Homo sapiens: one gene and its partners. The protein of the gene in region 2 purifies or fractionates together with the protein of the main gene of each other region. This does not show direct contact. Each region holds a gene or a part of one and is shown on either strand. Other genes may lie near its edges. The genes, in order: HERC3, DYRK4, RLIM, RNF138, PRICKLE3, RANBP2 and ATP1A1.

What was found.
Region 1: the proteins of DYRK4 (region 2) and HERC3 purify together in Homo sapiens (affinity purification with mass spectrometry, with the first as the bait; one large-scale study listed by BioGRID). This does not show direct contact.
Region 3: the proteins of DYRK4 (region 2) and RLIM purify together in Homo sapiens (affinity purification with mass spectrometry, with the first as the bait; one large-scale study listed by BioGRID). This does not show direct contact.
Region 4: the proteins of DYRK4 (region 2) and RNF138 purify together in Homo sapiens (affinity purification with mass spectrometry, with the first as the bait; one large-scale study listed by BioGRID). This does not show direct contact.
Region 5: the proteins of DYRK4 (region 2) and PRICKLE3 purify together in Homo sapiens (affinity purification with mass spectrometry, with the first as the bait; one large-scale study listed by BioGRID). This does not show direct contact.
Region 6: the proteins of DYRK4 (region 2) and RANBP2 purify together in Homo sapiens (affinity purification with mass spectrometry, with the first as the bait; one large-scale study listed by BioGRID). This does not show direct contact.
Region 7: the proteins of DYRK4 (region 2) and ATP1A1 purify together in Homo sapiens (affinity purification with mass spectrometry; one large-scale study listed by BioGRID and IntAct). This does not show direct contact.

Annotation. Positions count from the first base shown.
Region 1 is NC_000004.12:88,700,480-88,703,979, reverse strand, and holds part of HERC3 (probable E3 ubiquitin-protein ligase HERC3), read right to left. Parts: intron 1-3,500. UniProt on the Homo sapiens protein: E3 ubiquitin-protein ligase which accepts ubiquitin from an E2 ubiquitin-conjugating enzyme in the form of a thioester and then directly transfers the ubiquitin to targeted substrates.
Region 2 is NC_000012.12:4,610,708-4,614,207, reverse strand, and holds the end of DYRK4 (dual specificity tyrosine-phosphorylation-regulated kinase 4), read right to left. Parts: intron 1,666-3,500; coding exon 1,490-1,665; intron 697-1,489; coding exon of another isoform or gene 694-696; coding exon 455-693; 3' UTR 333-454; downstream 1-332. UniProt on the Homo sapiens protein: Possible non-essential role in spermiogenesis.
Region 3 is NC_000023.11:74,594,125-74,597,624, forward strand, and holds part of RLIM (E3 ubiquitin-protein ligase RLIM), read right to left. Parts: intron 1,877-3,500; 5' UTR 1,854-1,876; coding exon 1,685-1,853; intron 266-1,684; coding exon 182-265; intron 1-181. UniProt on the Homo sapiens protein: E3 ubiquitin-protein ligase.
Region 4 is NC_000018.10:32,112,374-32,115,873, reverse strand, and holds part of RNF138 (E3 ubiquitin-protein ligase RNF138), read right to left. Parts: intron 2,130-3,500; coding exon 2,014-2,129; intron 1-2,013. UniProt on the Homo sapiens protein: E3 ubiquitin-protein ligase involved in DNA damage response by promoting DNA resection and homologous recombination.
Region 5 is NC_000023.11:49,176,374-49,179,873, forward strand, and holds part of PRICKLE3 (prickle planar cell polarity protein 3), read right to left. Parts: intron 3,434-3,500; coding exon 3,320-3,433; intron 3,016-3,319; coding exon 2,878-3,015; intron 2,103-2,877; coding exon 1,899-2,102; intron 1,807-1,898; coding exon 1,620-1,806; intron 830-1,619; coding exon 530-829; intron 1-529. UniProt on the Homo sapiens protein: Involved in the planar cell polarity (PCP) pathway that is essential for the polarization of epithelial cells during morphogenetic processes, including gastrulation and neurulation.
Region 6 is NC_000002.12:108,767,982-108,771,481, reverse strand, and holds part of RANBP2 (E3 SUMO-protein ligase RanBP2), read right to left. Parts: coding exon 3,094-3,500; intron 2,223-3,093; coding exon of another isoform or gene 2,145-2,222; intron 1-2,144. UniProt on the Homo sapiens protein: E3 SUMO-protein ligase which facilitates SUMO1 and SUMO2 conjugation by UBE2I. Involved in transport factor (Ran-GTP, karyopherin)-mediated protein import via the F-G repeat-containing domain which acts as a docking site for substrates.
Region 7 is NC_000001.11:116,379,744-116,383,243, reverse strand, and holds part of ATP1A1 (sodium/potassium-transporting ATPase subunit alpha-1), read right to left. Parts: intron 1-3,500. UniProt on the Homo sapiens protein: This is the catalytic component of the active enzyme, which catalyzes the hydrolysis of ATP coupled with the exchange of sodium and potassium ions across the plasma membrane.

The DNA of each region.
Region 1 (3,500 bases), on a different chromosome or scaffold from region 2:
GGAGGCATCCTAAGGCATCATATAGGTTACCAGCTCTCCTCTCCTCCCTCTCCATCCCCAGCCCTAACATTCCACCAAGTGCCTCAGGTGATCCAAGGCAGGATAAGCCAGATAGGAAGGGCAGCAGGCCAGGTATATAGAACTAAACTACTGGCTTTACCTGAGGTATTCCAGTTTTCATGTTAAAAGCCCTGCTTAAAATTTAGTGTGGAAAAAATAATAAGACCTTTTCTGCTTAAAATAAAAAGTCTAGGATAACAGTTCTAGGCCATTTTCCTCAGAAACAAATAAAGCTAAACCACTTGATACTTGTATCCTCACCTGTTTTAAAAGGTTCATTTTATAACTCCTTGTTTATAAAACCTTTACCTCTGGGAAGAACCATCTCAAATAAAGGCTCCATCTCACTAATAATCAGGCAAATGCAAATGAAGACGAGTGAATTGTCATTTGCACTCATCAGACTGGCCTAAGTTTAAAAATGAGATTATATCAATATGGTGAAGGTGTGGGGAAAACAGAAACCTCATAGGCAGTTGGTAGGAAGATAAACTGAAATGATGGGAACCATATCGCAACCATGGAAATATATAAAGATCAACCAAATGAGAAGAGCAAAGGCTATTTTTTCAGAGCTGCTATAGCAAGAGAGTCAGCCACTGTCACTTGTGTTGTGGCAGAGACTCAAAATCAAGCAGAGGAGTGGAAAAGCTTTACAGTGGAAAGAGGGAAGGCTTCAGGTACACTCTGATTGGAGGCTGCTAGTCTGGGGAAGCTGCAGGTGGGCTAACTAGAAGTGGGGCATCCTATGTGACTGGTTAAGGGTGTGTATTTGGCTTTCTCTGGTTGGCCCTAAGTTGGAAGTAGGAACAAAAATTAGGGAAGCTGCTGATTATTAATCACATCCTGGCCTATTTGGGCCCACTGTTACAGAAGTTATCGAGACAGATGGCAATCAGGCTGCCTGCAAGTCTGACTTATAGCAGGCTGGCTTCCTGGGCTGCTTATTGCAGATAAGAGGTTGGTTTCCCGGGCAGGTTGCTGCAGATTGTGGGTCTCAGCTCCATGTTTATTTATATATGGCCTGGCCATTGTCCATAGGAATATTCAGTCTCTCACAAGTGGAAATATAAACTGTGAACCTAGACATAAACATTTTGGGGGGAAATTCTGTCAATATCTAGATAAGTTGAAAATGTAAATACCCTTGACCATGCCACTGTGCTAGCGGGTAGGTAATGCAGAGACGCTAACATGTGTGCACAAGAAGATGAGTGCAGGCAAGTTTACTGCAGCATTTTCTTGCAATATAGAGAATTTAGAGAAACAACACTAAACATCCATTAATATGAACATGGACAAGGAAAAGATGGTAGAGTCATATGATGGAAACCATAAAGCAGAGCACTTTGATGGAATTAACTAGATCTAAACTTAGCAAAATGAATAGAATCTCAAGAACAATGCTGAGTGAAAATCAAGTATTTGCATGTTCAGTAAAATATGATGGCATTTATGTAAGTTGTGTTTTAACACTTAAAACAATGCTACTTATAAAAGGTAGTAGCTCTGTCACTCAGAGCTTGTGACCCTTGGGCAAGTTATTTAACTTCTCCATGCCTGTGTCCTCATTTGTAAAATGGGGGAGAGTAAGAGTAGATAACACATGGGACTGCTTTAGGATTAAATGAGTGAATACATGTAAGAGTGCTTAAACCAAGGCTGGTGTATAACAATTACTTTGTAAGTATTAACTAGTATTATCATATTGTTTATGGATATGAGATTTTGCTTATGAGTATGAAATTATAAATATGATGCATACATAAGATGTGTAAGTGTTCATTTTTAAAAACAAAGACATTAATGTAAAAAGATCTTTGTCTAGCCAGGTGCAGTGGCTCATGCCTATAATCCCAGCACTTTGGGAGGCTGAGGCAGGCAGATGGCTTCAGCCCAGAATTCAAAACCAGCCTGGGCAACATGGCAAGACCCAGTCTCCACAAAAAATTAGCCAGGCCTGGTGGTGCATGCCTGTAGTCCCAGCTGCTCAGAAGGCTGAGGTGGGAGAATCACCTGAGCCCAGGAGGTCAAGGCTGCAGTGAGCCATGATCACGCCACTGTACTTCAGCCCGGGTGACAAAGCAAGACCCTATCTCAAAAAAAAAAAAAAAAATCTGTTTTAACATACATGTTTATTATAAAAAGTATAAAAACATAAAAAAAACATATCAAATTCATAAGAGTTTTGTCTGTGTAAGAAAGAAGGGCGGGAAGAGGGGAATGGAATTAAGGGTATGTACAACAGTATCAGTAATTTGGAATTAAGGGTATGTACAGCGGTATCAGTAATTTTTTTCTTTTATTAAAAAATCTGAAGCAAATACCTGTTGACTGTGGATCATATATACAAATGTTTGTCACATTAACTTTTTGTATTTTAGATTAAAAACAATTTTAAAACTTCACATCATGAAGATAGTTATTTACTACTTATCCATCACTGTAATTTAATACTTCATAAAGCTACATTTGAATTATTGGGTTTCCTCCAAGCAGATAGTTTTTACATGTTCACCATCCACACCAATAACTAGCCAACAAATGGTGTAATACAGTGGATAAGTGAGGCAGACAGGGGTTCAAATCCAGGCTCTGCCATCTTCTGTATCTAACTAGTAAGCCTCCCTTTTCCCATTTTTAAAATGGTATAACTGTGCAATCTTTAAAATAAAGCCACTAATGTAAAAAGATTATTGTGCATGTTAATCATTGATGCTGAAAGTTTCTCACACCGTATATAACACCTCACTTCTCTGAAACCCATGACACTAAACTAATGACATTTTTCTGATACAATTACCCAAGAGAAACACCATCACAACAATTTTTATTACAGACTGTGATGGTTAATTTTATAGGTCAACTTGGCTAGGCTATGGCATCCAGTTGTTTGGTCAAACACCAGTCTGGATGTTGTTAAGATATTTTTTTAGTTGGGATGAACATTTAAATTCATTGACTTTGAGTAAAGCAGGTTACCCTCCATAATGTGGGTAGGCCATATCCAATCAGCTGAAGGCCTTAAGAGAAAAAGACTTGAGGTCCTCCAAAGAGGAAAGAATTCTCCCTCCAGACTGTCTTTGGACTCAAGATTTAAATATTAACTATTGCCAGAATTTCTAGCCTTACAGCCTACCCTGCAGATTTCGGGTTTGACAGCCCCCACAATCACATGAACCAATTCTTTAAAATAAATCCCTCCTTGCCCCCACCCCCCTCGGCTTCACACCCTGTTGGTTCTGTTTCTCTGGAGAACACTGACATATAGATTTCGGTACTAAGAAGTACAGTACTACAACAGCAAATACCTAAAAACGCAGATGTGCCTTTGAAATGAGGAAATAGGTAGAGCCTGAAAGAGTTTTGAGGAGCTTGATAGAAAAACCTAGATTTCACTTAAGGGACTATTGGTAGAAATAGCTCAACAGTCTCAGGAA
Region 2 (3,500 bases):
CATTTGAATTCCTGGATCCTGCTGCGCCTGAAACTACATCTACCTTTTCTGATGCCCCAATTATGTAAGTCAATAAGTGTCTTCCGTTGTTTAAACTGCTTTTGAATTCAGCTTCTATCATTTTCAAACAAAAATCCTGACATAGGTTGGCAGTCATGGGCAAGAAGAAAAAAAATTTCTTTTGTTTGGAGTTCCATTAATGATGCTGTAACACTGAGAGTTCAAAACTACCCGCCCCCTCTACACACACAGATGCATATGGAATGAGTTTAAGTGCAAGGACATCCTCCCCCATCCCTCATAAGAGGAGTCATGCCAATTGGCCATGTTAATAGAGTTTTTTAACATAAAGTTTTATGTATTTAAAAAAAACAGTCTGAAGTATTGTACAATATAAGTGCTGTCTTAATACAAATCACTGGTGGAAAGGAGCAGGACATACCCTCAGCAAAGGTCATACAATAGGGGGTAAAACGTTTGTGTTCTTGAGGGAGAAGTTTTTGCTCTGTCCTGGGGAGGTCATGGACACCTCCGCCCCGACAGCTGCCTCTGACTTCTTGGGAGCGTCTACCAGTTGAGGCAGCTGAACAGTGTCAGCTCCGTGCTGGAGACAGTCCTGCTGATCACCTGAATGCTGAACATGCTTCGTGGGGCTATCTTTTGTTTTCTCTGTAGTCTCTTTGGTGATCTCATCTGCTAAAGGAGAGAGAAGACAGAAGGGAACAAGATTCAAATGTGGATTATATGTTAATTGTCCTTTAGGTTGTACATCACTTAGTGGAAACGATGACCGTGATGATATAAAAACAGTTCATTTGTAAAGCACCTCCAATGTGCCGGGCATTATTCTAAGCACTGTACATTTACTAATTCGTCTGATCATTTCAGCGACCCTGGAGAACAGGCTTTATTCTCATTCTCATAAATGGAGATACTGAGCTACAGAGAGGTTAAGTCCACACCTGATAAGTGGTAGAACCAGAATTTAATCCCCAGGTAACCTGACTCTTGTGACCATGTACCTAACCACTAGGCTATATTGCATATAAAAATTTGCATAATGCCATAATCTGGCACTGACAGAAATTCTAAAGGTAATTATAGGGCATAAAGGGGTGGACGCAGTTAATGAAAAAGGGAGGAGGAGAAAGGAAATTGATTATAGGAGAAAAATGGAAAATCCTAATAAGGGGCAAAAAAGATCCAGGCTAATGCCAAATTTCCCTGAAAAGGAAAATCCCAAAGGTAAGAAATGGCAGGCTAGTCATGATGTAGCCACAAGAATTATCCCAGGTTGAGGTTAGAGAAATTGACATGCAAATCCTTCAGAAATGCTTAAACAGCATATTAAACAGAATATTAAAAACAAAGATTTTAATTTCCAGACTACAGAACTGGGGCTTCAAAAATATCACAAGGAGATTTACAGAATTCTAGAATATTAATTCCCGGACTGTGGGACTAGGACTGGTTATTTGACAGGCTGTACCTTTTCTGCTCGAGTGATGACAGCCTTGAACCTTGTCCTTCCTTGTCTCAGAGGGGAAAAAGGAATTGGATTTCCTCAGGGTCTGGGGCCTGGGCTGTGGCTTGAGGTTCCGAGACTGATGAATCCAAGCATGCTTGAGGGCCTGGTCCGGGGTCATGCGAAGAGAAGGTTCCCATCTGCACCCCAACAAAGCCCCACATGGGTTATTGTTTTATTTCCTTTTAATATATTAAAACATTTTTAAAACCCAATAAAGATTTTTATTTAAGCTATGTTGATATCTCAAAGATATATAATCATAGAACAGAGATTATGGCATATAACTTAAAAGTACCTGGAAACAACTAATGGAAATAATCTTTTTAGAAGATGTGTATAACAAGCCAGGGAATATATATTACAGTCCAAGTCTTCCAGCATTCCTAGAAATTTCCTTATAAGAAATATTATTTTACAAAAGCTTAATCAATAGGATTTAGGGTTTGGTAAGCTAAGAATATTAAAACAAAGATTTCAATTTCCAGACTACAGAATTGGGGCTTCAAAAATATTGCAAGGAGATTTACAGAATTCTAGAATATTAAGATTTGCAAGGGGACTTGGATATAATCCAATCAAACTTGTAATACAGTAGCAGAATACATTGACTGAACTACCATCATGGAATCACCCTGCAATTCTTGAGTAATTTCAGTGACAAGATACTAACTCACAGAACCATCTATTCCAATTCTGAAAAAACTCCGATTCTTTAAAAGTTCTTGACTTTTATTGTGCCAAAACTGGTTTGCTTCCCAGTAACTTTTACCCAGGTCCTAATTCATCAACACATTACCATCACACAAAATAACTATCCTAATTTTATGGTTCAGTCCTTCAACCATCTGAAAATATTTACATCGCTACTAACTAATGATCATATGATATGGTTTTCACCATCTGACCACCTTCTGAAATAAGGATATTTTAGCAGTTGTCTAACTGGTGTCCATCATGGTGGGAATAGCTTCTATAACTGCAGGGAGACAGTATTAACATTCTAGACTCATTAAGGTCCTAAAACAGCTCAAACTCTCATTTCTGTGTCAAATGAATTGCTGTTAAACAACATCTCTCCTTTCCTGGACTTCTGGAGTTCGCCTACAAAGTCTAGACACGGGGCTTTACATTTATGCCTATTGAACTTGGCTCAAAACTTTTAGTCTCAAAGATTTTCTAATTAGCAATATATATATATAAGATAACAGTCCCCATCAGCCTGACTGCCTCTTGCAAGTTATGAGTAATCAGTCCTTTGCACTAAAGAAGAAAATAATGCCTTCCTTGGTGCTGAGCTGTGTTCTGGATGGTTGAGGTTTCTGGATAACCCATCTGTCTCAGCAGTTGGTTTCTGTCATTTGTTAAGGTAGGGGTAAAGATGGGGTACAGGATCCTTCCCTACCTTGATTATTCTGATGAGTGAATAGCATGACCCCCTACGATGGGAATACTTTCATCATTACCTCATGGTTCACCCTCTGAGCTAGTACTGAAATTCCAGAGAGCACAGATGCCAGAAGAGTATTTTGATAACATCACTCCATCCAACTGGAAGAATAAGAGACTGTAATGATATGGTCTTCTAAAAATACTAAATTATAGGACTGATAGAACTGGAAGGGAGCTTAGGAATACCGTATTTTATAGGAAAGAACACTGAGGCCCAGAAAAAAGTGATGACTTGCCAAGTATCACATGGATAATCTACTTGCCACTCTGTGGAGATAGATTTACCTCTTTAATAGTCGTAAAATAATAAGAATAGCTAACGTTTTCTAAACACCTTTTAAACTGGGTGCTGTGCTGGGTACTACGACTTAAGTACAGATCTAATTTCTAAGATTCAAAATATGCATATAGATTATAAAAAGTTGTACATAATAAATGGTTTACAGCTCACCTTCCCCCTAATTCCCTAATATAAGACGATTTGGGTACTAAATCCTAGGGGGAGGGGGACAGGCCCTGAAAC
Region 3 (3,500 bases), on a different chromosome or scaffold from region 2:
AGGTAGAAAAAAAATGCTGACATTCTAAGTATCAAGAAAATGTCAGTTTTCTTTTTATGAGCAGTTACTTAGCACCAAATTAATTTGTGCCAAATCTGGATAATCTTTGGCTGACATTTACTATTACAAAGTTCCTATCATCCCATCGTCTATCCACCTCCCCACCAAAACCAAAACATACCTCTATTTTCATCTGAGTTTTGCGGTGGTGGGCCTTCTTTAATTTGCTGTAGTCGTCTCAGCAACTCTTCCTCAGTACTTTCACCTGAAATTTAACACCACAGGGCAAAGATGACATTAGGGGTATGACAATCAAATACTTTATCAGTGACTCACAGTAATCTGACACAAGATGATTAGAAAAAAAATCATATTTTTAAAAGAGAAAACTTTTTCAAACCAAAAAGAAAAACCAAGGAGTAGGTAGGTCCTGGGAAAAATTCACTTCTTTGGAAACATATTAAAAGCAATTTACAAAGTTCTTTTGCATATAACATCTAACTTTGGCTCACGCCTGTACTCCCAGCACTTTGGGAGGCCGAGGCGGGTGGATCACCGGAGGTCAGGAGTTCGAGACCAGCCTGGCCAACATGATGAAACCCCATCTCTACTAAAAATACAAAAATTAGCCAGACATGGTGGCAGGTGCCTGTAATCCCAGCTGCTTAGGAGACTGAGGCAGGAGAATCGCTTGAGCCCAGGAGGCAGAGGTTGCAGTGAGCAGAGACTGCACCACTGCACTCCAGCCTGGGCGAAAGTGCAAGACTCTGCTTAAAAAAAAAAAAAAAAAAAAAAAGGCAAAGGCAATTCTAAGCTGGGCGCACAGTGGTACCACATCTGTAGTGCCAGCTCGTTGGGAGACTCAGGCGGAAGAATCCCTTGAGTCCAGCCTGGGCAACATGAGACCCTGTCTCAAAAATAAATAAGTAAGTAATTTTTAAGAATTGCAGCTTTGAGAGGAGGATATTGTTATCTGCATTTTAAAATTAAGAAACAGACTGAGCGACAGACTGGCTTGCCAGGAGCCACACCAAACAGCAGGGCCAGAACTCCACCTAAAGCATTCTGATTCAAGCCTGGTATTGTTGGCTAAAAACACACTCCCTCTCTTAAAAGTCATGCTAAAACCTTACCTTTTAAAATCTAAGCAATTACTCAAAGGTAAGTAGAATTAAACAGAAATGAAGAGGAAGACAGATACTGACTTTTAACTAGGATCAAATGGGACTTAGTGGGGTAAAAGATAATTAAGCACAAACTTCTAATTGCTATGTTACCCAAGGCTAGCTCTGGAGGATTACAACTGGGACATATTCAGAAAATCAGAGATAACAGAATAAGTCTTTCCTAAAAACTAAGTTCCCATTAGCTATTCCACACTCGGATTCTTATCTAGTAAGTTAGATAAAGCTAACTAAGAAAAAAAAGATTTAGCTCCATTCTTTTCAATTCAGTTCGCTAAAAATTCATAATTCATAAGTTAAAAATCTCTCTGATATAGTGTAATTCCAAACATCAGTAAATATAATCAGGTAATAAATACAGCAATAAATGTCATTCCATATCCCCTATGTTAAATAATATTTCATAAGGGCTAAAGAAATGGATTTTTAAAACAGGTTCAAGCATTTTTTTTTAAACCAGCAACTTACACTTATAAATCCTTAAATATATGTAAGCATACCTGGGGTGCCTAGCAAATTGTTATCTCTCATAAGCCTATAATCTTCTTCACTCAGGTTATTTACAAATTGATAGAAAGCTTCTTCTCGATCCAATCGGTCCATCTGACTTCTGCGCTGTGCTGCAGACTGATCACCACTTCCTTTGTCATTGGAATCTGAGTTTTCCATATTGATGAACAAGTGGAAAATACCTGAAAAGAGAAAAGAGACTAATCTTGAAAATAAAGGTCACTATGTATTCTATACAAGTTTTAATTATGTGAAAATCCAGAATGTAGGTCTAGAGATGGATTTTCAGACCTCAAATGAAATTTCCTAACAAAAACTCCTGAAAAGCACTGTTATATTAAGAGTAGGTCAAGGGTTGGCAAACTACAGCCCTTGAACCAGACAGGGTTGGCGAACTAAAGCCCTTGGGCCAAATCCAGCCATACTGTGGTATTTTTTGTTTTTTGAGATGGAGTCTCGCTCTCTCAACCAGGCTAGAGTGTAGTGGTGCGATCTCAGCTCACTGCAACCTCCACCTCCTGGGTTCAAGTGATTCTCTGCCTCAGCCTCCCGAAGTAGCTGGGACGACAGGCACCTGCCACCACGCCCAGCTAATTTTTGTATTTTTAGTAGAGACAGGGTTTCACCATGTTGGCCCAATCTGGTCTCAACCTCCTGAGCTCAAGTGACCTGCCCTCCTCAGCCTCCCAAAGTGCTGGGATTACAGGCATGAGCCACCGCACCCAGCCTCGTGCTGCATATTTTTATTCTCCTTGCAACCTAAGAATGGTTTTTAGAGACTATCTTGTGACATATGAAAATGCAATGAAATTCACATTTTAGTGTTCATAAAGTTTTATTGGAACGCAGCCATACACATTCATTTACATGTTATCTATGGCTGCTTCTGTGCTATAATGGCAGAGTTGAGCAGTTGTGACAGACTGTATGTGGCACTCCCATTGCTTTGGACTGCTGCTCTGTGCACTCTTAAGTTGCAGTGATGTAGCTATAATGACAGCATTTCAAGTGCCTTCACACTGGACATTAAAAAAAACTGAGTATACACTCATCATCTCAAACAAAGAGAAAAGTGGACTCTGAATGTCACGCTTAAAGGTGCAGCAGAGGATGGGTTTTTCAAAAATCAGATTAGATGGCAAAGAATGCATGATTATGCAAAAAATACTATATACTAAATACAATATATACTGACACTATTAAACACTAGTGACAATATTCCCAATTCACAGGAAAACTACAGTTCAAAAAGTTAGAAAATTTAAAGTGAAATCTCATCACAAAATATTTCTTCACAAAAATAAAAATGAGGCTTCAATCAAAGTAAATTTCCCAGGGGCTCATTTATTGGCTAAACGAGGAAAGCTGTTTATTGATGGTGAGTTAGTGAAATTATGTTTGAGTGCAGAAGCTGAAGAAATGTGTCCAGAGAAAATAAACATAATATTGGACTTTTGGTAAGTATAGTGGTCCAAAAAGCTGGGAATATTGAAAAGCAATGTCACTAATCAACTGAAAAATAAGGTAAATGATGGAGTGGTTTTCTCTTTGGCTCTTGATTTGTTGACAAATGTAACTGATACTACTTAAGTTATTGTTTATTCAAAGAGCCAAGTGTTGATTATTCAAGGAGTTTGAACTGCAGAAGTAGCCCCTATGTGTAGTCTACATGAAATAATCATAGGTGAGAATATTTTCAAAGTTGAGAAAACTAATTCAGCAAAACCTGAAGCAGAATCTCATAATAAGATATGTTACTACTGGAATGGTAAAAATATATATGGAATGGAAAAAGACCTAGTTGGA
Region 4 (3,500 bases), on a different chromosome or scaffold from region 2:
CATGTGATGCAACGATGGATAACCAAGAAAGAGGCTATAAAAAGAGAGGAAAGGGCCAGATCAGAAAGGGCTTTGGAATAAGGAAGTGTGTGTGTGCGTGCGTGCGTGTGTGTGCGTGTGTGTGTGTTTTAGACGGAGTCTGACTCTGTCGCCCAGGCTAGAGTGCAGTGATGTGCTCTCGGCTCACTGCAACCTCCGTTTCCTAGGGTCAAGTGATTCTCCTGCCTAAGCCTCCCAAGTAGCTGGGACTATAGGCACGCGCCACCACGTCCAGCTAATTTTTGTATTTTTAGTAGAGACAAGGTTTCACCATGATGGCCAGGCTGGTCTTGAACTCCTGACCTCAAGTGATCTGCCCACCTTGGCCTCCCAAAATGCTGGGATTACAGGTGTGAGCCACCGCGCCCAGCCAGAATTTTGTCTTTTATACTTCATTAATATTACTTTGGCGATAGAATGTAAAACAGATTAGAGGATAACTACCAGCTAAAAAGGCTATTATCATAGTTCGAGTGAGAGATGATGAGGGCCTGAGCTAGGGAAGTGACAAGATAAAATAAAAGTACAGATGAGGAATATTGCTATTAGGAATCAAGTGTCTATGACCAAGTGGATCTAAGAAATAAGGGGGAGGAAGGCCTGTCTCCTGATAAGAAAATTTGGTCATTAAAAGCGTGATTACAATCATGTATACTAAGAACTTTACTAAAAGCTGGAGATATGCTCAACAAGACAAACACCATCCCCTCACTTAAGAACAATCTATTGGGTAAAAAAGCAGATAGGAAATTACAATAAAGTAGAAGTACAACAATAAGAAAAACATAGAAATGAAGAAACCCAGAAGGACTAAAAAAAAACTATAAGAGCAACAACTTTCAAACAAATTTCCTTGACACTAACAAGTCAAGTAAAATGAGAACCTGAAGTTTTTTCAGACTAGGCAATCAGAAAATTACTGCAGATCTTTACCAGACAATCACTAAAGGTTTTTACCAGAAATTTCAACTGAGTAGGGAAGACGCCTAATGTAGTATGATCAACATGAAGTGCTTAAGGGCGGTTAAGTTACTAAAAATTAGCAATATGTAAAATGAAAGGCTACTAAAATAAAATATTAGAGACTGCTTAACATACTGTCTCCTGGGAACCTTTCTATAATAGTGGCAATATTGTCTTTCCTTACAGTTACGTATGTGCTTACTACTGAAGTTTTCAAAATTAACAATGCATTGTTTAGGGATACATGCATGGGTGATGATACATAAAGAAAATCAAAGGAATGAATAATCCAAATAAGAGAATAGTGGTTGCATCTAGGAGTGTACGGTTCAAATGGGCAGGAGCTCACATAGAGATCCTGAAGTTTTGAAAAATGTTCTTTCTTGACCTGGGTTAATAGGTAACTGGATGTTAATCATTATTTTTTTAAACCACAAGTGCATTTTGGCCATTTTTCTGTGTAAAATACATTTCATAAAAATGTTTAATGTACATGAATCTGAGATAAGATACAAATCAATCCAAATCTAGTTGTTTAAAAGAAATGAGACTCAAACAGAACTGCACTGCACCTGGTTTCATTTTTACATGACATTTTAGAATAAAAATTTCAAACTCTAAGTCTATCCCTTAGATAGCAAAGAAAAAACAGGTTGTAGTTTGCAAATACATTACTGAAAAGGATTTTCTATAGTTTTTCAAATCATTTCAGTTGCAAAATCAGTAAGAGAAAAATCTCCAACTTATTTTTTACTCAAAAAAATGAAAATTCTTAGAATGATTTTAAATAACATAAGCTGAAGTTCATGAAGTCATCTCCCAGATGAGAGCTTACGTGTGCCAAACAGATTTTAAGGCAAATGCTGTAGTTCTGATACTTGGCAATTCACTTTAAAAACACATGTGCACATACACACACACACATCCCCCCAAATACCTTATCATATAGTTCCCAAAACAATTTCCATTTCAATTATGAAAATTCTGTATTTAGGAATAAGTATTGCTTACCTGTTCCCTACTGAATCTTGAGAGATCTGAAAGTTTGGAATGATAGAAGAAACACCATATTCATCCTGATACTTCTTACAAGATTTGTAATGATGTCTCATGCGATAGAATTTAATCTGTAAATTATTAAAATGTGACTTTTAATTTAAAATAGAACTCGTAAGATTTGAAATAGTGTAAAGAGAGGAAAAAATAAAAGTAACTAAATACTCCATTTAAACAGGAGTTGTATTTTTTTAAAGTAAATGATTTCATCCTTAAGTAGGAGTTAAGAATAGATAATACATTTCTGTTCATTAAATGTAGAGATGGAGAAGAGTCCATCTGTCTATAAATTCACTGCAAAAAACAGCAAATAACTTCACACTTGAAAAGACACTACCAGCAGTAGACAAAAAAATTAAAAGCACTAAGAGGATGCCAGATGCTATTGGGCATGTCTTATTATTTAACTTCTGCAGCCTGGCAGAGTTAGAAAGCACTTAAAAAAAAATTAAGTTCCTGGCTGGGTGCAGTGGCTCGCGCTTGTAATCCCAGCCTTTTGGGAGGCTGGGATGGGTGGACTGCTTGAGTTCAGGGGTTCAAGACCAGCCTGAGCAATATGGCAAAATCCTGTTTATACAAAAAATACAAAAATTAGCCAGGTGTAATCTCAGCTACCTGTGGGGCTGAGGCAGGAGGATTGCTTAGAGCCTGGGAAGTCAAAGCTGCAGTGAGCCGAGATTGTGCCACTGTACTCCAGCCTGGGTGACAAAGTGAGACCCTGTCTCAAAAAAAATTAAGTTGCCAGGAATACTTGGAACATTTTTCAGTTTCTCACTGAGAGGAATAGCCAGAATCTCTCGAGTGTGTTTTCCAGCTTCACGTCATTGCCCTGTCAGTTAAACACTTCCTTCAAAAAGATGTAAAAGCAGATCTGACTTGTGTGAATGCATGAAATAGCAACCAGCTTTGCTCACTGAATTCATTAGCTATTAGAAAAAATGTCGGTGATAAATCTATAGACACATGGATATACTCAAAGCCTAACCACCCCTCTCTATTTTATTCCTTCTCCAAATGATAGAATAAAATCCAGATTAGAGAATTAATGCTGGTTATTTGTTAACACCTGATTTTCCTACATGTTCCTTAAAATTAACCAAATATTTTGTGATTTCTTTCTTCTTCTTTTTTTTTAGACAGCGTTTCGCTCTTGTTGCCCAGTTTGGAGTGCAATGGCGCAATCTCAGCTCACCGCAACCTCTGCCGCCCAGGTTCAAACAATTCTGCCTCAGCCTCCCAAGTAGCTGGGATTATAGGCATGCGCCACCACACCTGGCTGATTTTTTATTTTTAGTAGAGACGGGGTTTCACCATGTTGGTCAGGCTGGTCTCGAACTCCTGACCTCAGGTCATCCACCCACCTTGGCCTCCCATAAGTGCTGGGATTACAGGCATGAGCCACCATGCCCGGCCCTTGTGATTTCTTAAATACATACATAAAT
Region 5 (3,500 bases), on a different chromosome or scaffold from region 2:
GGGGGCAGGGGTCGGAGAATGGCAGGGAGGTGGGAAGTCTGGGAAGTGTGAGGCCTGGAGCAGGCTCTGGGTGTTGAGAGGGTTGGAAGGAAGAACACGGAGCAAGATGGGACTGGTGTGGGGGGCGTGGCCAGGGCACCCGGGGTGGCTTCGGATGGAAGAGGTGTGGCATAGGCTGGAGTAGATTTGGTTTGCAATAAAAGGGGTGGGGCCTGACTGCAGAGGATGAAGGGTGACCGGCTGGAGAAGAGGAAGAGGAACTTGGGGTCAAGCAGAGACAAGTTGAGGTAGGGGACCAGCCCTGTATTGACAGGGTGGAACCAGGGTTCATGAGGCGGGTGTAGTTTGGGATGGAAACCAGGCCTGGACTGGTGTGGGGAAGGAGGATGAGCTGAGAAATGGGCGGGGCCCAGGGATACAGCAGGTGAAGGGCCTGGGCTAGTCAAGAAGGAAGGGCCAGGGCTGAGGCAGGGGCAAGGACATAGGGGTGACTGGGCTGTGGCTGGGTGTGGCTAGAGGGTTAGCTCACCTGGCGCTAACTCTGTGCTGGTGCCTTTGGTGGTGGTCTCTGATGCCCCCTTCACAGCAGAGAAAGAGGCTGTGGAGGCTGCAAGTGGGGCTGTGACAGGGCCGGCACTCCAGCTGCGGCGGCTCGGCCCTGGAGCTGTGGGCTCGGACCCAAGGCTGCAGGCTCGAGAGCAGAAGATTAGGCCTCGGCGTGGCAGGAATGGGCGGCCCAGCAGGGCCCGCCCACAGCGACTACAGCAGAAGCAGCGGTCTGAGGCATGCCAGTGCTGGCCCTCGTAAGCCATCTGGCCTTGGTCCAGGCCTGTGGGGAACGACGAGGGGGAAAAACTGAGGCAGAACCCCCAGGCGTAACCCCACCCCTCGTGAACGAGTCCCTTCTCAAGAAGAGGTGGGGAATCCGAGGCAGGGCACCCCTGGGTGCCTTCCTCCCTCCTCCAGAATGGGGCCCTTTTGGAGAAAGCAGGAAACAGGTTTTGGTTCTCTCCTGGAGACTGGCTGGTGAACCTCTCTCTCACTCCTCCCTTTCTTTCCCAGGGTGCTCTCTCCCAGAGCGGGGTGGGCATTGGACTCTAAGATTCGGGCCAGGCTTAGACATTAGGGGGTGGCTCCAAGTGGAAGGAGAATGGAAAGCTGGGCCTGAAGAGGAGGCCTGGCTGGTGGGGGCAGGGCTTAGCAGGTGGGGAGTGGCCCTGTTGAGAAAGGAGTGGTTCTCAGAGGATAGGGTGTAGCTAGAAGCTAGGCCTGACTTAGGCTGATACAGGAGAGTGGAGGAGAACGGGGCACAGCTTGGGGTGGTAGAGGCTAGGAGTAGGGCGAGCCCTGGGGCTGGAATTAGAGCACCCTCTGGAGGTGGGTGTAGACATGTGGTGGTGGCCTAGCATTGTGTTAGGTGGGGTTTAGAAAGCATGGCATAGTGGGGACATTGGGAGTGGGACTTGCAACCAAGCGTACAGGTCTATAGTGTTGGGGCTGGACAAAGTACAGGGCACAATGGAGGATGGGGCCTGGAGGACAGGAGGAGTCCTGGTGGGGTAGGACTGTGGCCCAGCTGTCCATCCATCCCTCTGTCCAGTCCCACAGCATTCACCCACCGATGTGCTCCCCACAGCCATCACAGTACTCCGCGTGGCGGGCCTCGTAGCAGGCGCAGCAGTGGGGGCGGCTCTGACGCATGACATAGCGCTGCCCTCCTAGTGAAGCTTCACACTCAAAGCAGCAGAAGTGATCCATGTGCCAGTGGCGGCCCTCAGCCTCCGTGCACTCAGGGGAGAAGATGATCTGGAGGGCGCAGGCCATCTGTGGCTGTCAGATGAGCCTGCTCCTGGCCCTGCCCACCCTCAACTCCCACCCCTGGGCAGGGAGGCCCAAACCTCGTCACAGGCTTGGCAGCGTGGACGCAGGCATTCGGCATGGTGACGCCCGCAGTAGACCTTGCCAACATGGTAGAAGTAGATGAGGTCAACCAGCAGTTCCTGGCACGTGGTACACACGAAGCACTGTGGGTGCCAGCAGGCACCCAGGCCTGCACGGCTGGCAAACACTGCGATGTCCCCACCTCCAATCTGCTTTCCGCACTGCCATGAGACAAGCACCAAGATGGTTACCATCACTGTCACCAAGATGGTCAGATGGATGGGGTCAGCCAAAGTATGTTACACTTGGGCCTTTCCCACAGTGAAACTTTGTGATCAGCCCCACCCATGGGGTAACTTTGACACAGGCCCTGCCTATACCAGGGATGGGGTTGGGCGGTACCTTAGAGACTGACCCTGCTCATGAGGGAAGCCGTAGAGACAGGCCCTACCCATGGTGGGTGGCCTTATAGGCAAGCCTCCCTCATCAGGGGTGGGGAAGACAGACAGGCCAGGCCTAGTGGGGGAAACCACAGAGATAGTCTCCACCCACCGGGACCTTAGCAATAGATCTCACCTAACAGTAGGATCTAAGGACAGGCCCTGCTTACCACTGGGCCCTGCAGACAGGCCCTGCCACTGTGGGTCAGCTCTTGAGGACAAGTTCTGACCACAGGAGGACCAAAGAGATAGCCCATGCCCCATGTCCACTGCACAGACGGGGAGAAAAACACACTAAGGCCTCCTTACAGACAAACCCCACACGACAGTGGGATTGATGGGACAGGTCCCTGTCCACCAGGGGTTGCCTTAGAGACAGTCCCTGCCCAACAGTGAGATGTGAGGAACAGACCCCGCCCACAAGAGGGGACCCTAGAGACACCTCACTGGGGCTTAAGTGGCAGGCCTCATCTTCCCAGTGCTTGGAAGATGTGTCCTGCTCCCCAGGGCTTGGAGCAGAGGCACTGCTCACTCGCTGAGGCCCTCCACGGCTCACCTCCTCACAGATGGCCCCAGTGATGGTCACCGGGAAGATGCGCACGATGCCACGCCCCAGATTCTCCCGCTTCCGCTGCTGGCTAAAGGCTCGGAGCTCTTTCTTTTCCTCCTCTTCCAGTGCTGTGCAGTACTGTGCCTGGGAGGAGAAGGCATCTCCCAGGCTCCTCCCTTGATGCCTGTCCCTGCCCCTCTTCCAGACTTCATCCATGCCCCGAAAGTTTACTTCTAGGTCTTTCTATAGATGGTGCCTCCTGCCTGAAGTAACCACCTCTTCTTCCAAGGCCCAGCTGTGGTTTTGCCAAGGAATGTCCCCTGATGACCCCTGCCTGTCTGGACCACTCACCTCAGATCAGCTCACCTTTCCTCCTCTGACCCTGCCCTGCATTGGCCCAGGCTGTGTGCTGTGCCTGGCATGCCCTTCCTGTCTTCTCTCTCCTCACCTCACTGTCGTGTGGGGGCAGCTGGTGCAGCAGCTGCTTGATCCTGTATTTCTCCCCAGGACTGTTGACGTAGGGGACCTTGTCCTCTGGGAGGCAGCTGAAAAATTGATATACCTGGGAGGACATAGGAGTGGGAGAAAACAACTGAAATGAGAGGTGAGTTGGGATGCAGTGAGATGGC
Region 6 (3,500 bases), on a different chromosome or scaffold from region 2:
TTAAAACCAAAGAAAACAAAAAAAAATTTGTGTTTACTTAATAGTCATTGAAAAGAATTACTATAAATTTCTAGAATTTATAAAGGTTAAAAATTTTAAAGTGTTGCCTAACTATACTTAGCATACAATAGTTTACCAAAATATCCATGCATTTGCAGCAATTGAAAAAAATCTTAAAACATAGGCAAGTATTACTATACATATGAAACTAATCCAAAGCCAACTGTGATTAGTTTCTGTAAGGAAAGTTAACAATTGCCAAGAATGGAAGGTGACTAGAGTTGCATCTAGTTTGCCTATGTTCAAGCATGATACTAAGTAAAATTAAATAACAACTGTGACTCTATAGGTAGCTAACACTATAAAATCTAAGACCATTCATATGGCTAAAAACAACCCATCCCCAGCCACCATCAATGCAAAGGGCAAAAAATTAGAAAGAGAAAAAACTTCTATATGCAACCTGTTCTGAACTTCTGGCTAAAGGAGTTTAATAAAGCAAGCCAGTCATGAAGCATGCCATGTATACCAACTAGTGATAGGGAAACATTCTGAGAGCTATGGTGTCCAATATGGTAGCCTAGCCACATTCTATTAAAACCTCACAAGGTGGCTAGTCCAAATCAAGACGTGCTAACAGTAAGTGTAAACACACACACTGGATTTTGAAGACTTGGTGAAAAACAATAATGTAAAATATCATTAATTTTTATATTAATTAGAAGTTAAAATGATATTTTGGACATAAGTTAAATCAAATCTATCAATAAAGTTACTTTCATCTGTTTCCCTTTTTAACTGTTTCTTTTTATTCTTTTTAATATGGCTACTAGAAAATTTATTTATTTATTTATTTATTTGAGATGCAGTCTTGCTTTGTCACCCAGAGCTGGAGTGCAGTGATGTGATCACAGTTCACTAAAGCCTGGAACTTGTGGGCTCAAGTGATCCCTCTGCCTCAGCCTCCCAAGTAACTGGGATTATAGGCACAAGCCATTGCACCAAATGACAATTTTAAATTACATACACAGGTTATATTTTATTTCTACTGGATGACACTGCTCTGCAGAACCAGTGCCCTTCCTTTTACAATGTTAAATTTGTCCCTCTCCTTCATTATAAACAAAAACTTAGTATCATTTTCTAGCTAGGAGAAATAACAGTACACCGTAAGATACAGATTCTTGTTCCACTTCTGCTATTACTCAGTAAAGACACCTTGGGTAAATCAGATAGCCTCTCTTGGCCTCAGTTTACTCATGTCTAAAGTCTTCATTTCTAAGGTCCCTTGGGACAATGACATTATCAGATTCAAAACAAAATAAGGCTCTATGTTCTACAGTAGTATATAGGCACATTCATTCTTAGGTCAGGGATTCCTAACCTAGAGCTCACAGAAACTGTACGCAAGTATACATCCACTTTTAAGTTAACACTTTTCACATTTCTCAAAGACCGTATCTTTAAAAATAAAAGATTAAGAGCTACCTTAGCTAGTAATAAAACTGGTATACTTAAAAAAAAAAATCAGAGATTGCTACTTTATCATTGTACTTGTTTGGCATGGCTAAGATGTGTTACTGGTCACTAAGGGTGAGATTTCACTTCCCTAACCTGTTCTTGAAGGCCTTCAACAGATCCCACTTCTTGTTCCACTCTAGTAGCCACACTTCTAAAATTGATCGGTGCAACATATATAATATGCAAGCTGTAGAATGCTGGCTGTTAAAAACGGGGTCCATTTTCAAATACAACATTTTTCTAAACCATGCACAAAAGAACAGCCCTACAGGGACACTCTTCCATATTGTATACATGCCGTTGCCACTACATTTGAATACTGGCAGACGTTAGTGGCTAAACATAAACATTAGATAAAACATAGGTCTTCATTGAGCAGACCTGAAATAGCAGAGCAATGAAGTACATTACAAATCAGCATCCCAGTACATTTTAAAAAACAAACCAACAAGGGTGTCATGCCACCAGTCAAAAGGTACTTTGCTTAAACTGGCATTCTTTAACATGCATGTTGTAGTGGTAAGTACTTCATTTCATACAGCCACAGTTATTAATACTTTGCTAAGGGCTACCCAGCTGCTAAAAACTGCTGTTATCTCATACTGAGAATGCTAGTTCTATACCTTTGCTCTCAGGCTGTGAGGAAGGGGTGCTAGTCCAAAAGGCCATGGGATTAGATTTAAAAAGGCTAAAATTAAATCCTAGAAAATAAAGAATATTTCGTTTTTTAACATTTTAGGAAACAAAATGAATATGCTTTTAAAACATAAAAAGCCAGAATCCCTCAATTTATACCACCAATCTGATTGTCTTACATATTCATTTATCCCTGTAGTTTCATTCTTTGCTCATTTAATACATGAGCAAGACTGACATACAACATATAAAATGAGAACATCTCAATATCACGTTGTTTTTTTTTTTTTGGAGACAAAGTCTCAGTCACTCAGTCAGGCTGGAGTGCAGTGGCATGATTTCAGCTCACTGCTACCTCCATCTCCTGTGCTCAAGTGATCCTCCTGCCTCAGCCTCCTAAGTAGCTGCTAATTATAGGCACGCACCACGACGCCCGGCTCATTTTTGTATTTTCAGTAGAAACAGGGTTTCACCATGCTGGCCAGGCTGGTCTCGAACTCTTGAGCTCAAGTGATCTGCCCACCTCAACCTCCCAAAGTGCTGGCATTCTAGGAGTGAGCCACCGTGCCCAGCCTCAATATCATGTTTTCTGAGTGACAAAAGAAACTGAACAAATGAAAATGAACACTTTAAAAAAAGACTCACGTTAATGTGCATGATTCAAGCATGAGTCCGTATACCGTACCGAGTTCTTTTGCTCTGCCCTAGCATGATAAAAGTATCTTCCAGTTACTGAAATGTCTTAAACTAAGTTCTCTTGCTCTTTGAAACCTCACCGTGAACTTATTAAGGGAGAAAAAAAATTGCTCAAATATTTTGGGGGTGTTCACAAAGCATCATTTATATCCCAACATTAGTATCCTACAAAGAGTCTGCATCAAGCTAAACATTAAAAGAAAGAAAAATTGTGCTTAACTTTAACAACAAAGTACTTACCCTTTTCTGGTGTTTTAAATGTGTAGTTGATTGAAGATTCTTCCGTTGGAAAGGAAGCAAAGAGATTTTTGACTTTGCTATCTGAAGACTGTTCGATATCAGAGTTCTTTGACAGTTCACATTTTTTAGGTTCCACTTTGCTTTCAGATCCACTCTGGGCTACTGAACTAGTTTCACTATTGTTACTTTTCAAAGGTGCATTAAAACTAAATCCAAACAAAGACCCAGTGGCTGAACTGTTGCCGAATGCAAATGGTTTTGATTTTTCACTACTAAAAATGCTTTTAACAGACTCTGAACCAAATACAAACTTTGGAGGAGAAACCACTGCTTTTGGTGTTGTTTCAGATGTGCTAGACACTTCAACTTCTGAAGTTGCATCTGCTACATCATCACCCTGAATAACA
Region 7 (3,500 bases), on a different chromosome or scaffold from region 2:
TCTGTAGCCTGAAAATAAAACCTCCAAAATGAAAGTCTCTGGAAATGTTTTGACATAAGCAGGATGTAGGAAAAGCGTGTGCATTATCACATAATTCACAGGATCCACCTACGCCTCTTGAAAACTGGAACAATTTTTAAAGAAAATGTTGATTCTATAGTTTAAATTTAGATTGTTCCACTCCCCCACCCCTGTTGAAAAATCCTTGAGCTTATCTACACAAAGCCTGAACTTGGTGCTCCAAAGCTTAGCGGAGCAGAAGAGCCCCTTGTTCCAGACACCTCCCCCTGAAGCAGCCTCCCACAACTACAACTTAAGGCCAAAAAGTAGACATTAGCAATTTTCTTAAAATGCATGACATATGGTGCTATTACTATTATTTTGTGGTTCTCCTTTACTCATTTCTAACTTTCCTAAGTGCATTACCAGCTACTAAAGCAATAATTAGGAACTCGTGTCCAGATTATAATTTCACTGTGCTGAAATGAAAAAAGAAAATCAAAACGTATTATGTGTGTTTCAGTCATAACTAATAGTTGCAAATAAAATACATTGTTCACTTAAATTTAAAAATATCCTCTTAAGACTCCAAGGAGAAATCCTTCTCCAAATTCACTGGAGTGGGCCACATGTAGAGACACATTATTTACCTTTTTAACTTCTGTGGTCACGTGTGCAGCACTACTTGACTAATAACTTCTTCCAACTGGGTGGGTTCTTTAGTTTCTATCTTATCTATTAATGAAGCAGGTCTAAAGATAGTCAACATTCTTGACATTCTCTCCATTATGGAGCAACCACATTTGTTGGTGCCTCTTTCGGTACAGCTCTTGGTGCCAGAGTTTAAATGAAAAATAGTAACACATACAAGTGGACAAATAAAACAAAAAGGAAAAGGCAGGTCATCTACCAGAAAGGAACCACAGCTAAAGTGGTATATCTTTAGCTTTAATTAAAGGTATATCATACCTTTAATGAGAAAGCACAACACTTAAAAAACATTTTAAAGACATTGACTAAGGATCTCTAAAAGATTTATGTGACCACTTTGTATTAATTTTCTTTTTTTTGGGGATGGAGTCTCACTCTGTCGCCCAGGCTGGAGTGCAGTGGCGCAATCTAAGCTCACTGCAACCTCCGCCCAAGGGTTCAAGCAATTCCCTGCTTCAGCCTCCTGAGTAGCTGGGATTATAGGCGCTCGCCACCACGCCTGGCTAATTTTTGTATTTTTAGTAGAGACGGGGTTTCACCATCTTGGCCAGGCTGGTCTTGAACTCCTTACCTCATGATCCACCCACCTCGGCCTCCCAAAGTGCTGGGATTACAGGCGTGAGCCACCGTGCCCAGCCTGTATTGATTTTTAAAATACAGCTCACGGATTCTCTCTGAGCAAGTTGAATATCATTGAAATATATTTCAATAAATGAAATAGTTATAACCCCTCAGCTTCATAATCTGCATGCTTTGCTTATTCTCAGACTTCCAATATCTTCCACTCCAGAAGAGGAGAGAGGATTACTAGAGCAGCTAGGCTTTGAACACGTTCCAAAGTTTTACCCCCACTTACAAAATAAATGTCTTGCCCATAGCTTCACCACTATCAGTGCTAAAGTTAGTTGGGAATTTAGATTCCCTAATAACTCTCCTTTTTCTTTATCCATTCATGCTAGGTAAGGCAAAGTTTTAAATGAGGCTATTTGTGGGTGAGACACATGGCAAGTATTAACAAGTAAAACTGCTTTTTCTTCAAAATTTTAATTTTTTCACTAGGCAATGTGTGTCTAGAAGAACCAGGCAGCTTATACAATTTAGTTCTTCTCCACAAGTAAAATAATAACTTAATATTAGCTTATTCTTGTGGGAACCAAATATCCTTAAATCCCTATCAGTCTCAATTACCTCAGTCTCAAAGCTGCAAAATTCAGAGTCAGGGAGTGCACACTGCGTGAGATGAACAGTGGTAGAATCAGGTAGGACAATGTTTCCTTATTATTTTTTAAGGCATTAGGGAAAAACAAAGGTCATGGGAAGGGTGAATGATAAATACGGCATTTCCTCAATCAACTACAGTAATCTTCCCACTCATCTGGGCATTGGGCACACACTTCCTACTTTTTCAATTAGAAAGTTCAGGTCACTTCCCCCCTCCCAGAGGACTGGGAGTGATTAATCCTCACTCTCATCATGTTCCATGTAAGGGCACCCCCGCCCCTTTGAGCATCTCTGAGGAAAGGTACAATGGAAACTCAACGGATTACACTATTTTCTAAAGGGCCACTCATAAAAATGAAGTTGGGTTATGGTTTTTTTTTTTCCCCCTTCCATTCTAATTTAGGAAGTGGAAAGTCACAGCAAGGGCAGGGGCTTACCCACGGTGACACAGCTTAGCACAGCGTCATCATTTCATCCTGTGCTTCCCATGGATTCTATCCTCTCAAAGATTAACTAAGCATTTTGCTATTTGATCTGGGTAGAGGGAAAAGGTGCCCAAGACATGAGAAGATAAAATTCTTGACAGGAGGAACCAAGGTTAAAACATGTAACAAGGTTCACTCACTTAAAAATATATACCGAATCCTCACAGTCCTCACAATGAGTGAGACATCCCCGAGACTTGCTAGAGCTGAAGATGTTGCTTCCTCTTTTTTGGCAATTAGCCATTTAATGGGGACAGGGTTGGGGATAGATATGACAGATTTAGAAATTATCCCAAAATAAGCAGGATCTTCCATCCCAGAGGTATATTGCTTCAGGTCTGCATAAGCTATAGCCACCGCCAAAGGCCTTCATACCCATCCCAAACACCAGCCTCCAACAGGGCAGGATGCGAAGGCTTTCTCAACCTGCATTTTTCCCACCATATCAGCACAATGTCCCATGGCCAGCAGGGAGCTCAGAATTCTTGAGACTTCTGAAATTCCTGCTGAAAAAGTTTAGAGGGTACTTGAAAGTTCAAGACCCACCATTCCCTCCAGACAGGTCTGCTAATGGTGTTGAGTCTGCCAATTTATTCTAGTGTTGCCACATGCTGGCTACATGACCTTTGCCTGTCAGCCTTAGTTTCTTCATTCCTAAAATGGGAATAACACTTGGTATAACTATTAAAGAACCTAGAGAAGGCATTTTCATAGTCTGATTAGTCAAGAAACCATTAACTCTGAAAAATAAAACACCTTAAAAACTGGACTATTTCCAAAGCCCACAGACAAAAGCTTTTGACGGGCAAGAAGGGCCAGAAGGATGGCAAAAGGAAGTGCCCCAAATGCAGCCCATTTCGGAGTTGCCAAGAAGATTGTAGAAACAACACCTCTGGACATGATTTGGCAAATACCACTTTAGCAGGAAAGTTGTGTGATGGACTCTGACCTTGCTGGTTCCCTAGAGGCTGCCAAGTCTGGGCTACCTTCAATGTAAAAGGTAAGGGGGAGGGGTGCTTTCTCATTTTCCTGGTCGATACATTATTAAATCATCCAACACAATTGTGTATGTAAAAGTATTCT